3 linked regions of the Homo sapiens genome follow. The protein of the gene in region 1 interacts with the protein of each later gene in a biochemical or structural test. Each region holds a gene or a part of one and is shown on either strand. Other genes may lie near its edges.

Region 1 (7,000 bases):
AGTCGCACTCAGGGTAGACTCCCAGCCAAACTCCTCAACAGGAGCGCAGAGAAAGCAGCCTGGGGCGAGTGCAGTCTTTGCCAGGACTCAAGAGGGGAGGATGAACATCCCCTTCTCCCTCTCCCCTCCTCTGTCCTGTGGGTCCCAGGGGGCGAGATGACACCACACAGGTCTGCCTCTCAGGGCCCATTCAAGACCTGGTCTTTGACCCATTCTCCAAGCCAGGACTCCCTTCACTTCCTGCTGCTTCCTCAGAGGGCACCTAAGTCCTCTTTGGGAGCTGAGCAAACAGGAACTGATAGGGACAGAGGACACCACTTCCACCAGCCAAGGCCTAGGAGCTGCTGACCTGGTCAGCCCTCACCCCAGCCAGGCAGAGAGGCAAAACCTGGGGGTCCCCGGCAGCTACGAGATTGGAAAGGTTCATCAGCCCTCCCCCATCTGCCCCAGGCATTGTCAGGGAATCAGTGGGCTCAGAACTGGCAGGCGGTGCAAGCTCTGCTTCCCTGGGCCACACTGAGGGCTGGGGCCAGCTCCCTGGATGGGGGTGGAGTTTACCAGCAGCCTGGGGACAGCATGTGTCCTTTTTAGGAAATGTCCTTGGAGGAAGTGTTCATGTGTGGCGCTGGTCAGCAGCTAGTCCCGCTTCCAGGACACTGGTCAGAGTTACCGATGAGGCCTGGGGGCTCCCGCTTGGAAACCCCTCCAGCTCCTCCCATCTGCCCAGACAGAGCGGCAGATGGCACCAATGCATGCTGGCTCCCTCATTCCTGCCCAGGGGCTGTGGCTTACGGCCAGCACCCTGTACCTGGGACTCAGCCCTTATCCCCCCTCTGCTATCTGTGCTGGGAGAGGGGCTTCGGAGGGAAACAGATATGAGGACACTGGCACCATCTGGGCCTGGTGGCAGGGCCATGGGAGGTTGGAAGGCACCCACATCCTTAAAGCCATCAGTAGCTATAGTGGGTGCCCACCTGCATGTGAAGGGGAGGCAGTTCTCAATTTATTTCAATAAATCCTTATGATGTGCCAGTGACCAGAATTTCTGTCTGCTCCAGTTGTTGGGTTGGCCGGACTCTGCTGGGCCCTGAGTATGGTGGGACAACAGGTCTGTCACCAGGTGCTGGGCCATCCGGCGTTCTGAACAGATGGCTTTGCCCAGTGTTTTACTCACAGTCCTGAGCTGGGCCGGACGTCCCCGGTGCGTCATGTGGTGGTCACAGGGCACCGCAGTGTGCGTGTGTACGTGCGCACGTGTGGGTCCCCTCCCCCAGGGATGCAGCCAGGCCAGTCTCATTCAGTCTCCTCTTTACTGTGGGTGTGGGTGTCACTGTCACTGCCACAGCCACTGGGAGGGACACACAGCTTTAACCCCTGTGTGCTTAGGGGAAGGGTGGGGGCATTCAGGGTTATAAAACTAACTATATACACAGAAGGTCCTAGGGAGAAAGCCACCCTGAGCACACATGTCTGGGCACAGTGGGGGCTGGGGGCTGGAGCTCAGGCAGGATGGACTAGGCTTGTGGAGGAGCGGGTGGGCATGAGCATGTGAGGACATGCTGGGAGGGCTCAGGAGGTGGCACAGACATTGCCAAGGCCACTGCAGGGCCTCGAGCAGCTTGGCTGGATGGCAAGCTCTCGGTCTAACAAGGTTCTTCCACTTTAGAGTTGGGCCCTGTGAGAGCCACCCCCTCCGCCACCGACCTTCAAGCCCTGAGCGGAGGGAGAGGCTGCAGGACCAGCCTCATTCCCCACTCACGGGTGTAACTCCTTTCCCCACTCAGTCCCCAGGTCTGGAGGGCACCCACCCTCTTCCTAACACTTCAGCAGGCCAAGGCCAGGGTGCCTTTGTGGGCTGGGGGAATAAGGCAACGGGACATCCACTTGGAAGGCCTGTGCTGTGGAGGGTGCTGAGGGGGACCCAGTACCCCTGGCAGAAAAGTGACAGCCCTGGTCTCAGAGAGGAGGACTGCCATGGGAAAATGTCTCTGGGACACCCCATCAGGGTGGAGACATCCCTAACCCTCAGGCATCGCCCACAGAGATAGGGAGGCCACCGAGGGGTCTCCACAGAGATGGACTGGCACTTAGGGACCATCACAGACCTATCACCGCAGTGACTTCCATAGAGACAGAACCTGGTCATCAGGGAGAACCCACCCCCTGCTCCCCCAGGAGGATGGTGAGGGGCACCACGGTGGGGGGACCCAGAGGCGGCAGTCCGTCCTCTCAGGTGCAGATGCACGGCGGCCCTTAGCTGACGCGGTACGTGGACGTGTTCTTGGGCTCCGTGCTGGGCACACACCAGTCGCCGGCCTCCTGGATGGTCTGGTAGTGGCGCCAGGCTGACTTGTTGTAGACAGGCAGGCGCTCCACCGAGTCCGTGGACAGGGCCTGGGGAGTGTCAGGGTCAGCCCCTCCCACCTCCCTGTGCCTTGTCCACTCCTCAGCAGACCACCCCACCCCAGCTCAGCGGCAGCCCAGCTGCCAGACACGGGGGCCTGGAAAGACCACAAAAGGGTGGTCCCTCCTGTGTCCCGCTCCTGCCCATTCAAGCAAGCAGCTCCCTCTAAGGGAGGGAGAGGGAGGGGGAGGAGGCTGGGCTGTGTGACCCTGAGCAAGTCACGGACTCCGGGCCTCAGTCTTCTCCTCTGAACTGAATGGCAAGACCTAGGGTGTCCCCTTCCTTCTGGGTCTAACAAGTCAAGGGTTCCCAGCACAGGGGTCTTAATCATAGACCACAGACTCCCCTAAATTCCCTGACAAGCAGTGCGTGTCTGGGGGTTGAGGGTTCTTCAGGTTGAGGAACTGTAGCTTTGCTTGGATTCTCAGAGTCTGGGGCCAGGGAAGGACTGGGGGGATGGAAAGGAAAGCTCGCAGCTGGCCAAGGCTGCCCAGGTCCTATCAGCAAAGCTCTTCTCCAGCTGGGCTCTGCGGGAAGGGCCCTCACCTTGAGATAGATGACAGCATCGGTCCCAAAGCCTTCCATGGAGAAGAGCTGCAGGTCTCCCTGGAAGTACTTGGCGTAGAGGCGGGAAATGGGGAGCCCATAACCAAAGCCAGCCTGCAGCGGGGCAGGAAGGCAGTGAGGATGAGGAGGCTGGCAGGGGCCTCCTGGAGCTGCAGGGACTGATGCAGGGAGGGAAGGGTGTGGAGCTGGGGTCACATGGCAGGGGTCCCAGAGCTGGGAGGGGACATGTGGGAGGGGACACTGAGGTAAGAAGTGTGTGTGGGGTGAATGGGGCAATCATGAATGCGGGAGGGAGGCTTGGGCAGAGAGAGGAGTTCCGCTCAGGGGCCAGGAAGTCAGAGCAGGCCCCACGGCTCCTTTGAGTCTCAAGTTTTCTAACAGGGAGGTGCTGACAAGTTGGACAACACCAGGAGAAAGGTAGAAATTGGGGGTTTGGGAGCTACAGAAGAGAGGGAAGATGGAGGAAAGGTGACAGAGAGACATCCGACAGGTGAGATCTGTGCAGACTGGGGAGATGTGGGAGGTGCGGGGGCCCAGATTCAAGACAGGTGACTGTCACAGACGGCCACACAGAAGCTGAGTGAGCAGGGAGATAAGGAAGTGAGTGAGGAGAGAAGCCTCCCTCAGGAGGTGGGAGGGGCTGGGGTGAAGCCATCTCACCAGCGGCGTTCCCCCGGTGCCAGGCTGGGGGGTGGGTGCTGTGGAGTACATGTAGCTGAAGAGTCGCTCAATCTTCCTCAAGGGAACACCCCCACCTCGGTCACTCATCTGGGAGAGATGGGATGTGTCAGGGATTCTTTACAGCTCATTTTCCCCACCCCGCCCAATACCCCTGACCTTCTCATGGTCTTCCCCACCCCCAGGATCTGCCCACCATGTAGGAGAAAAGGAAAGCCCGTCTCCTGGCAGGAGGGAAGCCCCCACTACTGCTCCCTGGTCCCCAAGGTCAAAGGGTCACATACCTTGATGGACAGATCTTCCTCACCCAAGGCCACCATGACCTTGATGGGTGGGAGAATGAGGCTGGACTCATGGCTTTCCACAGTCGCCCTCATGGCATTCTGCGGAGGGGCAGAGGTAAGAGATGCATGGGAGAAGCCAGCCCTACTCACGCTCCCCGCAAAGCACCGGCTCCCAGCCTCCTCACCTTGAAGAGCTCAAAGAGCATGTGGTAGAGGTGGGAGGGGACGTAGACCATGTGAATCGGCTGTTTGGAGTTGGCTGCTACAGGGCAAGTCAAGACCAAGGGTCAGGAAACCGTCAGGAGGTCACTGCTCAACCACCTTACCCAAAGGAGGCACCCCCTCCCACAAAGTTCTGAGTACATGGCTGCCCAGCGAGAGACTAAATCCCCAGCCTCCCTTGAGCTGGGGTAGCTGGTGACTCATGGAAGTGATGCATTCAATTCTTGGGCCCTGCTTTCCACACCCTTGTTCCCTTCCTCCAGGCTAGAACTGAATCAGGGGTGGGGAGCCAGCCCTGACCTGTCCAGCAAGGGGCTGGCGAGAGGGAAACCTCCCTCTTAAGTAAGCCACTGGTATTGGGGTTCTAGGAAAGCAGCCAAGCTGATACACCATCTAACATGCCCCTCCTCCCTACCCCTGTTGAGTTACCCCATTTTATTTCCTTCCCATCACTTGTCATGATCTGAGATGGTCTTGTTTATTTACTTGTTAATTGGCTGAAGGCTCCATTCCGCAATCTCCCTAGCACCAAAAATGTAAGGTCCACGAGAATGGGGACCATTTCTGTCTTGCTTACTCTTTCATTCATTCATTCACTCAATTTCTTATTTGTTTGAGATGAAGTCTCGCTCTGTCACCCAGGCTGGAGTGCAGTGGTAGCATCTCAGCTCACGGCAGTCTCAGCCTCCCGGGTTCAAGTGATTCTCCTGTCTCAGCCTTCCAAGTAGCTGGGATTATAAGCATGTGCCATCATGCCCGGCTAATTTTTGTATTTTTAGTAGAGACAGGGTTTCACCATGTTGCCGAGGCCGGTCTCAAACTCCTGACCTCAAGTGATTGGCCTGCCTTAGCTTCCCAAAGTGCTGAGATTACAGGTGTGAGCCACTGTGCCCAGCCCAAATATTTATCAAATGAATTAATAATATAATAACTCTGCTTCTCCCCTGTCTAGAAAACAGTCCATCTCCTGACTCCCCGTCTCACCTTGCCCTGCCACGTCCCCAGCCCCAAGACAGACACATACACAGCCCCGCTCACTCACCATTGATCTCCTGGATCTCCAGGTCAGGTGAGGCCATGTAATACTTGTCACACAGGAGCTTAGCCATGTCGTAGGCATCTGAGAGAAGATGGGGTCATTCAGGGCATGGGTGGCCCACCCAGCAGGCAGTCCTCCTGACATTGATACTGGGGACCACCAGCATTAAATCCATGGCACCCCTTACTGAGGAACGAGTCACCCTCTGGCCAGGTAAGCTTGGAGGGGTCCCCGGGGCTTCTCTGCGGGCCAGGCACCGTGGGAATGGCTCACCTTTGACCACCTCAGAGACGTTGCAGTTGGGGTCGATGCTGCCGATGTGTTTGGGATGGGCTGGGTTGGTGCTGCCATCAAAGATGAGGGCTGCAGGCAGGAAGGGAGGATGCTGTTGGCTGGGCTGCAGTCTGTCCCAGCGCTCCCTCTTCCCCCGGGCTTTCCTCCTCTTTCTACTTTCACCTCCAATGCCTCTGTAGGCTCCAGTCCTAAAGCTGCCCCACTCCCCCGCTTCTGTCCTCCCTTCCCTGACCCCTGACCCCTCCAGCCCTGGCTTAGGCCGTTTTTAAACCTTTGCAAACCTGAAACAGACGTCTTTTCAGAGGTCTCTCCCCACATCACATCTCCACATTGCATTTATTCTTTTCTTTGACTATAACATTCTAAGAGAACTCTTACCACCTTGCTTTGGAAATTATTTGAGCATGAGGAACTTGTTTAATTTATGACTGGCTACAACTTCTCAAAAATCATAGTGAATCCTCCTGGAATAAGAAACTCTAAACAACAAATTGTTTTTGAACATAATGAGAGTTTTTATAAATACTAAATTAAACATTCTTTTAAAGATGTGACATAATTTTACATTTTGCAAACACTGAAAACAAAACGTTTTGAAATGGAAAATCAATGAGAAAGAAAAATTTTATTTTTCCATGTTGGAGCCATTAACTCCATAGTTACTGGAGTAACTATTCAAAGACTCCCTTTGTGGGGTTCTGAAGAGTGGTCTAGGTCCCCTCAGCAGCCCGGCCCTGGGCCCCAGCACCGCCCCCCCCACCGCCCGCTCCCCGCCGCTGTGGCCGGCACCCACTGTGCTGGTTGATGAGCATGCGGATGGAGATGCGGCTGAGGTAGAAGCGGTCCAGGAAGTACTGGATGTTCTGGTTGGAGACGGGGTCATCGCCGTAGGTGTCCTTGTACTCAAGCACGCCTTGTGCCATGGTGGGCACCACGTCGTTGTGCCGGTTCCGGATGGTGACCAGGGCGTCAGTGAACCTGTGGGGCAGGGCAGATGTTCACATGGGACACCCCCAGACTCTTCTCCGCTTCTGACTCCCCTCTCCACGGTGTCTTCACCCGCTCTACCCTTCCCAATCCGATGGACTCCCAGTGCCCTCCCTGCTCCTCCCAAAGCCCACTCTGATCTTTTAGCTGCCTGCCGGCAGGCTTCCCACTCGAAAGCCCAGAGTTCTCATCCTCCCCATGGCAGGGCCTGGGTCTTGCCCACCGGGCTCAGGGAACAGTGAGAATGGAGTCCATGTCTCTCCCATCAAACTTGGGGCTCCCTGAAGCAGAGTCTGTCTCCCCACTCAGACTGGATGTTTCTGAAGGCAGGGGTCTTTTCTTCCATCCTGCTGTACTTCTGCCCCAGGGGCTGCAACCCCAGATGCCCCTGGCCAACACCTGCCTTCCTGCCCCACCCAGGGCCCCCACTCACTGGCTCAGGGTGCGATGGTCCTCGGGATCCTTGTCCAGGAACTCCATGATGTCCAGGAGGCTCTGGACATACCTGTGTGGGGGCGGGAGGGG
Region 2 (7,041 bases), on another chromosome or scaffold:
GGTGACAGAATGAGACTCTGTGTCTCAAAAAAAAAAAAAAAAAAAAAAAAATTCTAGACACAAGCTAATAAATTACATACCAACAGTACAAACCTGAGCTACTGCTTTTTGTGTTAAAAGGTTGAAACTGATAAAGCCACTGTTGGATTTGAGAGCCTGGAGGAGTGTTATATGGCAAAGATACTTGTTGCTGAAGGTACCAGGGATGTTCCCATCGGAGCGATCATCTGTATCACAGTTGGCAAGTGAGTAGTGCGCTCATAATTTGTGGAACTTCATTGCTTGGTGGAGTATTTTACCCAGAATTGAGAATTAGGAGTTAAAGACTATTTTTTAAGACTACTTTTGTGAAAGCTGAATCTGCCCATTATATTTATGCATTCTTTCTCTTCCTTAGGCCTGAGGATATTGAGGCCTTTAAAAATTATACACTGGATTCCTCAGCAGCACCTACCCCACAAGCGGCCCCAGCACCAACCCCTGCTGCCACTGCTTCGCCACCTACACCTTCTGCTCAGGCTCCTGGTAGCTCATATCCCCCTCACATGCAGGTGAGGCTCAGCCTCTGAGTTTTTGCTCTAGGTGATTACTTACTTACTCACTTTTTTTCATAGATGGCTACTACATCTTGGAAACTGACATTAAATGTGGTTAGGTCTTGTCATTTGGGAGTATATAGGTTTAAACATGAAGATTGACAACTATTCTTCCTGGTTGTTATTTCCAGTTATAAGAACTTGAACAGTTCCTGTAACCTTTCTCAGCCTCAGTGTAGTACACAGGGTAATGCGTGGCACTTTTCATTCAAGAACATTACATTACAGATTTTGAGGATGATTTTTACTAACATCTATTCCCTGTATAATTAGAGTTTATAGCAGGCTGTGTTAGTCTGTTTTACTTTGGCATGAAGAAATACCTAGGGCTGGGTAATTTATAAAGAAAAAAGGTTCATTTGGCTCAAGGTTCTGCAGGCTGTACAAGAAGCAGGGCGCCAGCATCTGTTTCTCTTGTGGCCACAGGAAGCTTACAATCATGGTGGAAGTTGGAAGGGAAAGGGGAAGGGTGGTGTGTCCCATGAGAGAGGGAACAAGAGACAGAGGGGAGTGGGTAACCAGGCTCTTTATAGCAATCAGATTTCCCCTTAACTCATTACCATGGGGCATGCAGCAAGCCATTCACGAGGGATCCTCCTCCAATACCCAGACACCTGCCACCAGACCCCATCTCTAACATTGGGGATCATATTTCTTTTTTTTTTTTTCCACATACAAAAAAACTTTATTTACACAGTCTTGGATTCTGAATCTCCAGTACTTCCAGGGTCTCTTGATCAAATGGGGCAGCAGCAGGCAGGGAAGCAAACACAGGGGCCAGTCCAGATTATCTTACTCAAGAACACCACCAAGAAGGGAAGGCCTAATTCAGTCTTGGTCTGGACTACATCTCCCCGCACTTTGAGATCACCACAGTAGTTTGGGCTTATTGTTGGGGCCTGTGGGAACATTCTGAATCTTTCTCATCACTAGAAGTCCATCAGTGATTTTTCCAAACATTACATGCTTCCCATCCAGCCAATCACACTTAGAGCAGGTGATAAAGAACTGACAGCCATTTGTACTGGGACCGCTGTTTGCCGTGGAAAGCAGGCCTGGAGCTGAGTGTCTAAGTTTAAAATTTTCGTCTGCGAATGTCTCCTGGTAAATACTGGCGACTCCAGTACCATCTCCATTAACAAAATCTCCACCCTAAATCATGAAATCCTTTATGACCCTGTGGAAAGTGCTTCCTTTGTATCCTATTGGAACCCCATCTTTTCTGAATTCTCTAGTGCAGAACTACCCAAAGTTCTCGGTCGTCTTAGGCACAACGTCTGCAGAGAGCTCGATCTTTGTGCGGCCAACTTCCTGACTGCCATTGCTGACATCAAAGAACACCATGGGGTTAGCAGGGCTTGAAGTTGCCACCACCATGGCTCTGACCCGGAAACGGAAGTCGGGGGATCATATTTCAGCATGAGATTTGGAGGGGACAGACATCCAAGCTGTATCATAGGTGTCAAGTGCTGTCTGTTGAATGAAAGTCCCCAGTTGGTGTTCTTTTGACATGTGGTGATCTATTTTCCAAGAGTGGGTGAAGTAGTCCAATAGTATTAATAAATGAGAAAACTGACAAAAGTTAAGTGTAAGATACACATATGTAATAGTGTTGCATCAAAGTTGAAGGCAGTGAATGTAATCACTGTTGATTGTGCTAACTAAATCAGTTTCTAAGAAACTAAGTCAGTTTATTAGGTATTAGGGTTATCGTCTGTATATTTGTGTGCTTTAGATGTTAAAAGTGGATAAAAATCCAGCCGTCCTTTTCTAAATAATTCTGACTGGCATTTCTCCTTAATCTAGTTTATTTGTAGAAATTTTTGTATAGGAATCTTTTTCTCCTTTGGAAATAATGTTCTACTCCATGGTCTGTTAGTAACAATCATTTAGGATTTTTTGCCAGGTGTTCAGTTCACACATGTATTACATGCTGTTCGGCAAATTCTATCTCATGATGTAAGACTGACTTAATTTTCCTCTACTTTGTGTCTGTAGCTTTGTGTGCATGTGTTAGGGTTTTACCTTAATTATTCTTTAAGATACTGAATTGGATTCTGAATCTCTGATAGTATTCTTTAAGATACTGTATAGAGATTATTGGCTTCACTGTTTCTTAAGAAGCAGATGAAGATGGCAAATTCTGCACAAAAAAAGCACTTACAATTTTTTTTCTAAGGCTTGTCTTACTTTCCCCTCTCTGGAAACATCTTCAATTGAAGTTATTTTCCTCTCCGCATAATCCTGTTGCTAATCAGATACAGAAGACAAAGAGGATAGCAAATGAAACCAAATTCAGTGGATACACAAGCCATATAAATAGTAAAGCAATTTTACATTTAGATAGGCATTCTGATGTTTGGATATTATTGGGGTGGAAATGGCTATTATAAAAACAGGGCTTTTTTTACCCCTGGTTTTTTATTTTTATTTATTTATTTTTTGAAACAGGGTCTCACTCCATCACCTAGGCTGGAGTGCAGTGGCATGATTTCGGCTCACTGCAACCTCTGCCTCCTGGGTTCAAGCGATTCTCCTGCCTCAGCCTCCCGACTAGCTGGGAATACATGCACATACCACCACACCTAGCTATTTTATTTTTTGAGATAGGGTCTCACTCTTCACCTAGGCTGGAGTGCAGTGGTGCAATCTTAGCTCACTGTAGCCTTGACCTCCTGGCTCAAGCCATCCTCCCACCTCAGCCTCCCAAGACGCTGTGACTACAGGCACGTGCCACCATGCCCAGCTAATTTTTTTTTTTTTTTTTTTTTAAGAGATGAGGTTACATCATGTTGCTCAGGCTGGTCGTGAACTCCTGGGCTCAAGTGATCCTCCTGCATCAGCCTACCAAAATGCTGAGATTATAGGCATGAGCCACCATGCTGGTCTTTCCTGTTTTTTTTTTTTTTTTTTTTTTTTTTTTTTGAGACAGTCTTGCTCTGTCACCATGGCTGGAGTGTAGTGGCACGATCTTGGCTCACGGCAACCTCTGCGATTCTCATGCCTCAGCCTCCTGAGTAGCTGGGACTACAGGTGGGTGTCACCATGCCCAGCTAATTTTGGTATTTTTAGCAGAGGAGGGGGTTTCGACATGATGGCCCGGCTGGTCTTGAACTCCTGGCCTCAAGTGATCCGCCCCTCCCAAGTGATCCTTGGCCTCCCAAAGTGCTGGGATTACAGATGTGAACAGCTGTGCCTGGCCTCCTGTTTTATTTTTTTGAATGATCATCATGCCACTGCACTCCAGGCTGGGCAACAGAGTAAGACTCCATCTCAAAAAAAAAAAAAATTATCAAATAAAATTCTGTGTAAGAATTCTGTGTACATATATTATATACAACAAGTTGTTTTGAAATATGTATATATTGTGGAATGGCTAGATTGAGCTAATTTATATATGCATTACTTTATAGACTTATCTTTTAGGCCACTTAAAAATCTACTGTCAGGAATTTACAAGAATACAATACATTGTTATTAACTATTGTCACCAAATAATGTTTTTTTTTTTAATATGGAATGCTTCACGAATTTGTTGTCCTTGCGCAGGGGCCATGCTAATCTCTATATCGTTCCAATTTTAGTATATGTGTTGCTGAAGCGAGCACAGAACAGTTCTTAATATTACGTTTTTATCTTGGAAAGATATCTGGTAAGGTTGGGACAAATGCAGTTTCCTGTGGGTAAAAAATAGGTAGATGCTAAGTACAGAGCGCAGTAAAATTTTAACAGAATGGTTTGGACCAAGGTCATTTTGTGAAAATGAAAAACTTCTTGGTTAAAAAAAAATGAAGTCTGGGCGCGGTGGCTCACGCCTGTAATCCCAGCACTTTGGGAGGCCAGGGCGGGCGGATTACTTGTGGATGGGCGTTCAGAGACCAGCCTGGCCAACATGGTAAAACCCCATCTCTACAAAAATACAAAAATTAGTGGGCATGATGGCACCCGCCTGTAATCCAGCTACTCGGGAGGCTGAGGCAGGAGAATCACTTGAAACCAGGAGGTGGAGGTTGCAGTGAGCCGAGATTGCGCCATTGCTCTCCAGCCTGGGGGACAGAGCAAGACTCTGTCTCAAAATAAAAATAAAAATAAAAATAGATGAAAAGATGCTCCATACTTAGATGTTGAGAAATTAATTTTGACTGTCTGAAAGAAATCTTTCCCATGTGCTTGTTGCATTTAACTTGGAGTGTGTGTTAGAGTGTGGGCGAGAGTATAAGAGTATGGGTCAGAGTATGAGATTTGAAGGATGATTTACCTGGTGGGAAGCTATTGAGGTGTGAAGCTTTTGCTGTGGTGAGTATTTGGATTATCATAGTCACCATCATTCTATGAAACCACATAAGTCTGCCAGACTTTTATTATGTAGAAGTCTTCCTGGTATTAAGCAATAATATGTGTTTGTTTCTGCAGGTACTTCTTCCTGCCCTCTCTCCCACCATGACCATGGGCACAGTTCAGAGATGGGAAAAAAAAGTGGGTGAGAAGCTAAGTGAAGGAGACTTACTGGCAGAGATAGAAACTGACAAAGCCACTATAGGTGAGATTTCTTCAGCTCTTAATGGTTGAGGCACTGAGTTTCCCAATGAGGAAGAGGATTGCCATTCTTTCCTATAATGAGTGAGTGATAATATGAAAACTTTATAATTCTTAGGATTCATTTTCTGGGACAGAATATTTTATTTTTATTTAGTTATATGTATTCTTTAGTTTTTATTTATTTATTTGTTTATTTGCTTATTTTTCAGACAGGGTCTTAATCTGTTGCCCAGGCTGGAGTGCGGTGGCAAGATCATAGCTCATTGTAGCCTTGAACTCCTGGGCTTATGCCCAAATGATCCTCCTGCTTTAGCCTCACAAGTAGGTAGGACTACAGGCCTGAACCACCACACCTAGCTGATTTTTTAAATTTTTTGTAGAGATGGGGTCTCACTTTATTGCCCAGGCTGGTTTTGAACTCCTGGCTCAAGCGATCCTCCTGCCTTGGCCTCTCAAAGTGCTGGGACTCCAAGCGTGAGCCCCTGTTCCTGGCCCAGCATAATTTATAACAAAAATAATGCGTAGTCAGATTTGTCAGTTCCATCCTGTGCTCACTGAATCAAAGGCAATCAATCTGTCAATTCACAGATTATTTTTAGGCCCAAGTTTGCTTCTTGGCCTTATTATGTTACTGAGAAGCTATATCAGAATTGCTGCTGTCTAAACTAGGCAAAGGAAGTCAAGAAGAAACAGGAGAAAATCACTTCCATGGCAGGATAATAGCAAAGAATTTAAGATGACTTTGAGGGAAAACTGAAACCAGGGTTGAGATTGTTTTCATAGTTTGAGAATGACTGATAGAATGTATGTGTGTAATATATATATGTTCAGATATGTCATATGTCCACATATCTCCTTCTTAATTCATTTTTAGGCTAAAAAAACCCATATAGACAATAATATATTTATTATTATTATTTTTTTTTTTTTTGAGACGGAGTCTCGCTGTGTTGCCCAGGCTGGAGTGCAGTGGCGCAGTCTCAGCTCACTGCAAGCTCCACCTCCTGGGTTCACGCCATTCTCCTGCCTCAGCCTCCCGAGTAGCTGGGACTACAGGTGCCCGCTGCCACGCCTGGCTAATTTTTTGTATTTTTAGTAGAGATGGGGTTTCACTGTGTTAGCCAGGATGGCCTTGATCTCCTGACCTCGTGATCCACCTGTCTTGGCCTCCCAAAGCGCTGGGATTACAGGCGTGAGCCATGGCGATTTGTAGTATTATGAATTTCTTCTCTCTGCACCCCCGCTTTTTCTTTTTTTTTTTTGAGACAGAGTTTTGCTCTGTCACCCAGGCTTGAGTACAGTGGTGCGATCTTGGCTTACTGCAGCCTCCGCCTCCTGGGTTCAAGCAATTCTCCTGCCTCAGCCTCCCGAGTAGCTGGGACTACAGGCATGCACCACCATGCCTGGCTAATTTTTTGCATTTTTAGTAGAGATGGAGTTTCACCATGTTGGCCAGGCTGGTCTCGAGCTCTTTAACCTCAGGTGATCTGCCTGCCTCGGCCTCCCAAAGTGCTGGGATTACAGGCATAAGCCACCGCACCCAGCCTCTCTGCTTCATAATCACCACCAAAGGGAAGCCTTTCCCAAAGATGTAATGGGAGGTACTGGGCATCCTCTGCCTTGGTTGTTTTCAGATTGTGTTCTTCAAATCCCATCATTCCTTTAAGGCACCTTGAGGCAAAGGGGGAATTAAAGAGCAGGACCTTACAGCCCTGCCTCCCTGCCTTACTTCCAGCAGAGCAGTTCTTTTCTATCTTTTTGTATTTTGTGCTTCCCCATAAATTTTATTTGAAGAAAGGATTCTGTTTCTTAAAAACACAGAAACTTTGGAAACAGTAGTTCTGCTTCACCATTTAACTTGAATACCAGTGTCACTATAGAGACTAGTCACTAGAGAAGTGTTACC
Region 3 (7,041 bases), on another chromosome or scaffold:
TTCCACTGGGTTATTTTACTCTTCATGAAAGCTTTGGCTTACTGTTGGGTGTTTATTTTATTGAAAGCAGTATATAGATTTAATTCTTAGATATCCTCATTTATGTGTATTACACTCTTACTAATTTGTTAACTGAATGTATGTGGTTCTATCACACACATACTGTGAAGTTCGTGCCACACTGCATGAGTTGGAAATCAGCTGTCCTGAGAGCTGACTGAAAGGCAACATCCCAGACCATGGGATTTTTAGTTAAAGGATTTAAAAGTTACACTTAGCTGTAAAAAATTAAAATTAAGAACCTTGGTTGCCAGTTAATCCCAGTTTTTTCCCCACACCAATCCTGATTTGTGTCTACTGTTGGTATCTTAATCTTGTTAGTCTCTACCAGTCTGTGCCTTAGTAGCACTCTCTGTAAAAATGGGAGAAAGCAACTATTTTTATAACAAAGTAGATTTGCCTTGCTCATAATTCTGAGGATTAGGAATAAGAGTCTGTATTTAATTCATTAATCTTTGAGGATTTGGTGAAATGTAAAATAATGATTGCTGCACCTTAGGGGGATCAGTTCTGCAAATTTGTGTAAGATAAACTGGAGCAGAAAAAGATGAGATAAGGAGATAAATTAATAGGCTCCTAAAGTAATCCATGTAAGAGGTAATGAATACTTGAATGTGGTTAGAAGAACTAAAAGGGAGATCCCTGATACAGACAACATTGTAAGGATAAAGTCCAGAAGCCTTTGCAGATTAAATGTGGAGTGTAGGCCAGAGTAGCAACAAGTAAGGGAATGAATTTGGATCTGGTCTAGGTGATGATAGTTTGGTCTCCATAAATAGAAATAATGGATTTGGGAAGCATTTGTTTTGGTGGAGTTAGTAATGTTTGAAGCTTATTGTCAGGACTTAGAAGCCATGTAGGTATTGGGATCAATGAGATGAAGATGTATCTCAGGAGATAGTTGGGGATTAGAGAGGTAGATTTGGTAGATAATAAAGCAATAGTTATAATTGAGATCATCAATAGGGAAACTAGAGGTTAAAATCCTTGAGTTGGAGGATACCTGGGAAATGTGGGAAAAGTCAAGGATGGTAGGATCTAAGAAAAGCCTCTTAAATTTGGTAATATGGTGTTCAGTAGTGTGACAGCAGTAAAATAAAGAAATAAAGGTTTCTTCCTTCCTTTTCTTTCCATGTGTGCTTAATACATATATGATGCGCAAATATCTTTTTTTAAACCTGAGTTGAAAGTTATAATATTAATGAAACATTTCTTAAGAACAAAATGGTATTATCTCCTGAATACCATAAGGAAGCAGTATTAAAGAGTTAGGCTTTTAGTATTATTGCCATCTTTTCTACCCTGTTACCCTTTTCTCTTCCCTGCCTTTATTCCTTAACTCTCCACGAGAAAGGCATCAGCCTTTGGTCTTCAAAATAAGAACTAGTACAAAAGATTTCATGAGAAAAATGGATCCTGAAAGCATATATTATTGAGGATTTTTGCTTTTCTATACTGCTAAAAATGCCTGCATTTTAAGTTTATCATTAAGGTGAGCTTTGGAAAAAATTTTAGCCTAATGTCGTCTTCTGCTATGGTTGAAAAATTGCAGGCTTTGGCATAGCTGTCCCCAAAATATCTTAGCACACTTTTTTATTTTTTAACGTTTTGAATTTTTTTTTCTTTAAGAGAGAGACAGGCTCTCACTCTGTCACCCAGGTTGGGGTGCTGTGGTGTATTCATAGCTCACTGCAGCTTTGAACTCCTAGGCTGAAGTGGTCCTATCACCTCAACCTCCCAAATAGTTGGGACTACAGGTGTGCCACCATGCCTGGCTAAATTTTTAAAACAGTTTTGTAGAGACGGTTTCTCACTAGGTTGCCCAGGCTGGTCTCAAGCTCTTGGCCTCAGGTGACCCTCCCACCTCAGCCTCTCGAAGTGCTGGGAATGCAGACGTGAGCCACTGTGCCCAGCCAACACACGTTCTTGACACGGTGAGGACATGCTCCATACCATGTCCACTAAAAGTCTGGGTAGAAAAATCAGTTCCAAATGCTGAAGGAAATGCCTCCAGCCCACTGTATTTGTGAAGAAAATCTTGGGTATCAGGGCTGCTATTTTAATTTTGCCTTAAAACAAGCATTGCTCAGAATACATGTTGTACCAAAGAATATAGACTTGACTTTGCTTGTACATGTGACTGTTTTAAGAAAGCAGTGTCGAGGCCACAATTAGAAGCAGAACACATTTAGTTTCTTTGCCTGCAGCCCCAATGTCTTTGGTACATCTGTGTCCTAAATCATAGTTGTAGTAATGTTTGTATTCATCACACAGCATCAAAAATTAGGTAAGTATGACAGGCAAGTGCCTAGTGTGTTTTAGTGGTATTTTCAAAATGAATTCATGTCACACCCAAATGAATTGCTCTCTCAGGGAACCCAGTAGAGAAGGTTGTACCTGAGTTAACTTCCAGAGCATCCTCTGCCTATCTGCCTATTTCTGCCAGTGGCCAGAATGAATTTGTGTGGTATATTTTTCTCCTAATTTTTATAGCTTTTAATGTCTACCTAATGCTCCAAGTTTAGTCTGATTATTTAATGTGCAGAAATCATTAAAACCATTTTCTGCCTCACAAAAAACTAAATCATTGGCTGTTACTAAACAATAATTAAGATTTATACTTCATAGGTATGTAAGTATAAAATCAGCAATAAAAAGACCAGGTGCAGTGACTCACACCTGTAATCCCAGTGCTTTGGGAGACCAAGGCTGGCGAATCACTTGAGGCCAGGAGTTTGAGACCAGTCTGGCCAACATGGTAAAACCCCATCTCTACTAAAAATATAAAAATTAGCCAGGCGTGGTGATGCACACCTGTAATCTCAGCTACTAAAGAGGCTGAGGCATGAGAATCTCTTGAACCCTGGAGGCGGTGGTTGCAGTGAGCTGAGATCGCGCCACTGCACTCCAGCCTGGGTGACAGAGTGAGACTCTTTAAAAAATAAAAAAAAAATAAAATCAGCAATACAAGTTTTTGTGAGCAAGAAGAAGCAATTTTGTTCTTGCTTCTTTATGATTAACCTACCCAAGAACCTTAATTACTACAGAGATAAAACTAAACTGCTTTTTAAAAAATAAAGTAGCAGTAATAGTTATGCTAAATATGTAATATTAGCATAACTAATATTAGCTATTAGCATAACTAATATTAGCTATTAGCATAACTAATATTAGCTAGCTATTAGCATATTATTAGCATAACTAAATATTACATATTACTAAATATGCTAATAAGTAATAGTTATGCTAAAAATGTGTCAATTTAGTGTCAGCAACCTTTTTTTTAAATAGATGTATTCGGGCATTAACGATACAGATTTTTGCACCCCAGTTAGACTGTTCCTGCTTGTGTTGATATTCTATTATTGCATAACAAGTTACAGTAAACTTACCAGCTTAAAATAATACCTGTTTGTTTTCTAACAGTTCAATAGGTTAGAAGTCCTGGCATAGCATGGCCAGGTTCTGAACTCATGGTCTCACAAGGCTGAAATCAAAGTGTTGGCCAAGGCTGGGGACTCATGTGAAGCTTGGGGTCCTCTTCCAAGCTCATGTGGTTGTTGACAGAATGCAGTTCCTTGGGACTGTAGGACTGTGGCCCTTGTTTTCTTTCTAGCTCTCAGCCAAGAACCACTGACAGCTCCCAGAGGCCACGTGCAGGGCCTTGCCATGCGTGGTCTCCATAGGCGGTTCACAACATGCATGTTTGCTTCTCCCGGGCCAGCAGTTTTATCTCTTTACTTCAAGTCTCTTCTTCCAGGAAGGCCTAATTTCTTTTAAGAGATTACCTGATATATCTGCCCTCTCCAGGGTAGTTTGCCTTTTGGTTAACTCAAATGCAACTGATTTGGAGCCTCATATATCTATAAAATGCCACCAATTTTGTCACATAATAGGACCTAATAATGGGAGTGACATCCATCATATTCACAGGCCAGATACAGTCAAGAGGGATGATATGGGGCATGTACACCAGGGGCAGGAATATTGGGGCCATCTCAGAATTCTTCCTACCATGTTGCCATAAGTAAAGGGGTCTTCTCAAATATGCTCAACAGGTGCTAGCTTTTATCTTTCATCAAATTTTTGGAAAAATAATACCAAAATATTAACTGAGAAATAATTTTTCCTTAGATTTTGTGTCATCCTGAAGTTCTTTTTAGATTATATAAAACAATTTTTTTTCTTAAATTGGAAAAAATACTTTCCAAAATACTTATTGGATATTAAAATGTTCCAAAAATTATTTTAAGAAAATATATTGCCTAATACCACTGTAACTTAGCATAGTGAGTTGAGGGCTTAGCATATTTAGTAATCTAATTATATCCTCTTACAAGACAAAAATACCTTTGTTTTACAGAGTAATACAAAGGCAAGTCTGTAACTAGTTATTTTTCATTCTAAAAGATATCATAGGTTAGATTTGTTATATTAGATTGTACTGATGGCATATTAGCAAAATTAAAAATGGTTTGATTTCCTGGTCATAAATAAGCTGATTTGCACTATAATAAACAATGAATAAACAATAAGTGAACAATGATGTAGGAAGTATCCTGGTGAAAGCCATATTTACAATAAACTTGACACTTTTTGAATGCCATGTGAATATTATTTCATGAGTATAAAGGATGAGAGTGGTTTAATTAATTGTTCATCTACCAAATAACGTCCACTGCACAGAAAAAAAGACTAATTTCCTTTTTAAAAATCACTACTTATGCCCAATTTTAATAACATTTTAATTGTTTGGCTTTTGAAAATATGCAAATATTAGAACGTGACAAATAATGGTCAGCAGACCAGGTAAGAGACAGGATTTAATTTTCTAGCTCAAATTACTGGTTTTTAATTATAACCTTGACATCTGTATATTTCTGTATCTTTTCTCCACATCTCACCTGCGTTTTCTGAAAGTTCTGTTATATTCCTTATTGCTAATTATGGTTATCTACTTTGCTCTTATTTCCAGGGATGCTCTCAAACTTGTCCAGTTGAAACAAACGGGCAAGATTACCGAGTCCAGACCAACTCCAGCCCCCACAGCCACTCCCACAGCACCTTCGCCCCTACAGGCCACAGCTGGACCATCTTATCCCCGGCCTGTGATCCCACCAGTATCAACTCCTGGACAACCCAATGCAGTGGTAGTGTTCTCTAAGTGGATTTTTATTTCTTTTTCTTGTTTTTCTTTTTTTTTTTGAGACAGAGTCTTGCACTGTCACCCAGGCTGGAGTGCAATGGCACAATCTTGGCTCACTGCAGCCTCTGCCTCCCAAGTTCAAGTGATTCTCCTGCCTTAGCTTCCTGAGTAGCTGGGATTATAGGCACGCACCACCACACCCACCTAATTTTTGTATTTTTAGTAGAGACGGGGTTTCACCATGTTGGCTAGGCTGGTCTCAAACTCCTGACTTCAGGTGATCCACCCGCCTTGGCCTCCCAAAGTGCTGGGATTACAGGTGTGAATCACCGCACCTGGCCTAGATTTTTATTTTTCAGATTCAAGTGTGAGAGAGAAAATAAGAACAATTACTATGTGTTTTAAGAGTAGATTTAAAACAGATTAGTTTTATTAATCCGTTTCAATAGTAGCTAAGTGATAAGGATAAAACACTCCAAATGCTTTGTTTTACAGATTTCCTATCAGAAACCAAAATTTGTTTGTGTGTTAACTTCCAAATAAACATTAGAACTATAATTCAATTTAAAGTTACCACAAGTTCCACAACTTCAGTAACATATATATTCTCTACAATCTCATGTTTCATGTCTTAAGTGTGATACTAATAATTAGTAGCTGACACTAGCTCCCTTTTGTGGATATGTTCTACTTTTTAACTAGGGAATTGATAATCTCACTATGAAGAACTATGTAGCTAGTCATTCTTTCCTTCTCAGATGCATGCAGTATAACAGCCCCTTTTTGTTTTCAAATTACTCCATTTTGCCTCTCTGTGCCTTTCCTATTCAGGTTATTTTCTTCCTATCAGAAGAAATGTAGGATAGCCCAGTTTATTTAAAATCGAATGGGCACTTAAAAAAATAAATAGATAAATGTGTACTCCTAGTGGAGAACTATATACCATATGATATTTTAAAAGAGTTGAAAACAGTACAACTTTCATGGGAAACAGATTTTTAAATATCCATTAATGATTAATATACTGCATACTTGAATAACCTGCTCTTTAAGGACATGCAGTTGGATAAGATACTATGTATATTGAGTGTATAGTCCACTCTTTGACTATATAATGTATATGGACTATGAAATATGTATAATTCAATCATATGTCTTTTAAAAGTAGGTTATTCAAGGCTGGGTGTGGTGGCTTACACCTGTAATCCTAGCACTTTGGGAGGCTGAGGTGGGAGGATTGCCTGCACCTAGGCATTCAAAGACCAGCCTGGGCAACATAGTGAGACCTCATCTCTACAAAAAAATTTTAAAATCAGCTGGATGTGGTAGTGTGTGCCTGTAGTCCAACTACTCAGGCGGTGGAGATTGGGGAATCACTTGAGACTGGGAGGTTGAGGCTGTAGTGAGCTATGTGCACTCCAGCCTGGGTAATAGAGGAAGACCCTATCTCAAAAAAAAAAAAAAAAAGTTATTCAAATTAAGGAGGTAAACCTTACTTTCAAATTCTTATGGTATGTAGAGAGCATTTATTCTACTTGACCAAGTACTTTGCTAACATAAAATGTTTAATTTCTTAATGATATTTGTAAAAATGAAATCAGCCGCACTTTCATTTGCTTTGTATTATCTTGAAGTGATTGTAATGAAATCCCAAAATAGAGTGAAGGACAAGAAAGGAATTAGATATAATTTAAAATCTGTCATGCTTTTTTGAGAGATCCAAGGAACAGAATGGAAAAACTACAGTGAAGTTATAGGAATATTTTATTATCTCATTCATACTTTCTATTATGAATCTGTAAGAAATAAGATACTCATGTTATTTTTAAAAATTA

Evidence for each region.
Region 2: the proteins of PDK2 (region 1) and DLAT form a complex in vitro, tested with the Homo sapiens proteins (2 studies listed by BioGRID).
Region 3: the proteins of PDK2 (region 1) and PDHX form a complex in vitro, tested with the Homo sapiens proteins (one study listed by BioGRID).

Annotation. Positions count from the first base shown.
Region 1 is NC_000017.11:50,105,351-50,112,350, reverse strand, and holds the end of PDK2 (pyruvate dehydrogenase kinase, isozyme 2 isoform 1 precursor), read right to left. Parts: intron 6,981-7,000; coding exon 6,909-6,980; intron 6,467-6,908; coding exon 6,282-6,466; coding exon of another isoform or gene 6,199-6,281; exon of another isoform or gene 5,980-6,198; intron 5,558-5,979; coding exon 5,468-5,557; intron 5,276-5,467; coding exon 5,198-5,275; intron 4,196-5,197; coding exon 4,119-4,195; intron 4,033-4,118; coding exon 3,934-4,032; intron 3,740-3,933; coding exon 3,632-3,739; intron 3,065-3,631; coding exon 2,951-3,064; intron 2,395-2,950; coding exon 2,254-2,394; 3' UTR 199-2,253; downstream 1-198. UniProt on the Homo sapiens protein: Kinase that plays a key role in the regulation of glucose and fatty acid metabolism and homeostasis via phosphorylation of the pyruvate dehydrogenase subunits PDHA1 and PDHA2.
Region 2 is NC_000011.10:112,028,395-112,035,435, forward strand, and holds part of DLAT (dihydrolipoyllysine-residue acetyltransferase component of pyruvate dehydrogenase complex, mitochondrial isoform 2 precursor), read left to right. Parts: intron 1-120; coding exon 121-245; coding exon of another isoform or gene 246-249; intron 250-397; coding exon 398-551; intron 552-1,267; exon of another isoform or gene 1,268-1,997; intron 1,998-5,009; coding exon 5,010-5,136; intron 5,137-7,041.
Region 3 is NC_000011.10:34,961,605-34,968,645, forward strand, and holds part of PDHX (pyruvate dehydrogenase protein X component, mitochondrial isoform 1 precursor), read left to right. Parts: intron 1-5,035; coding exon 5,036-5,210; intron 5,211-7,041.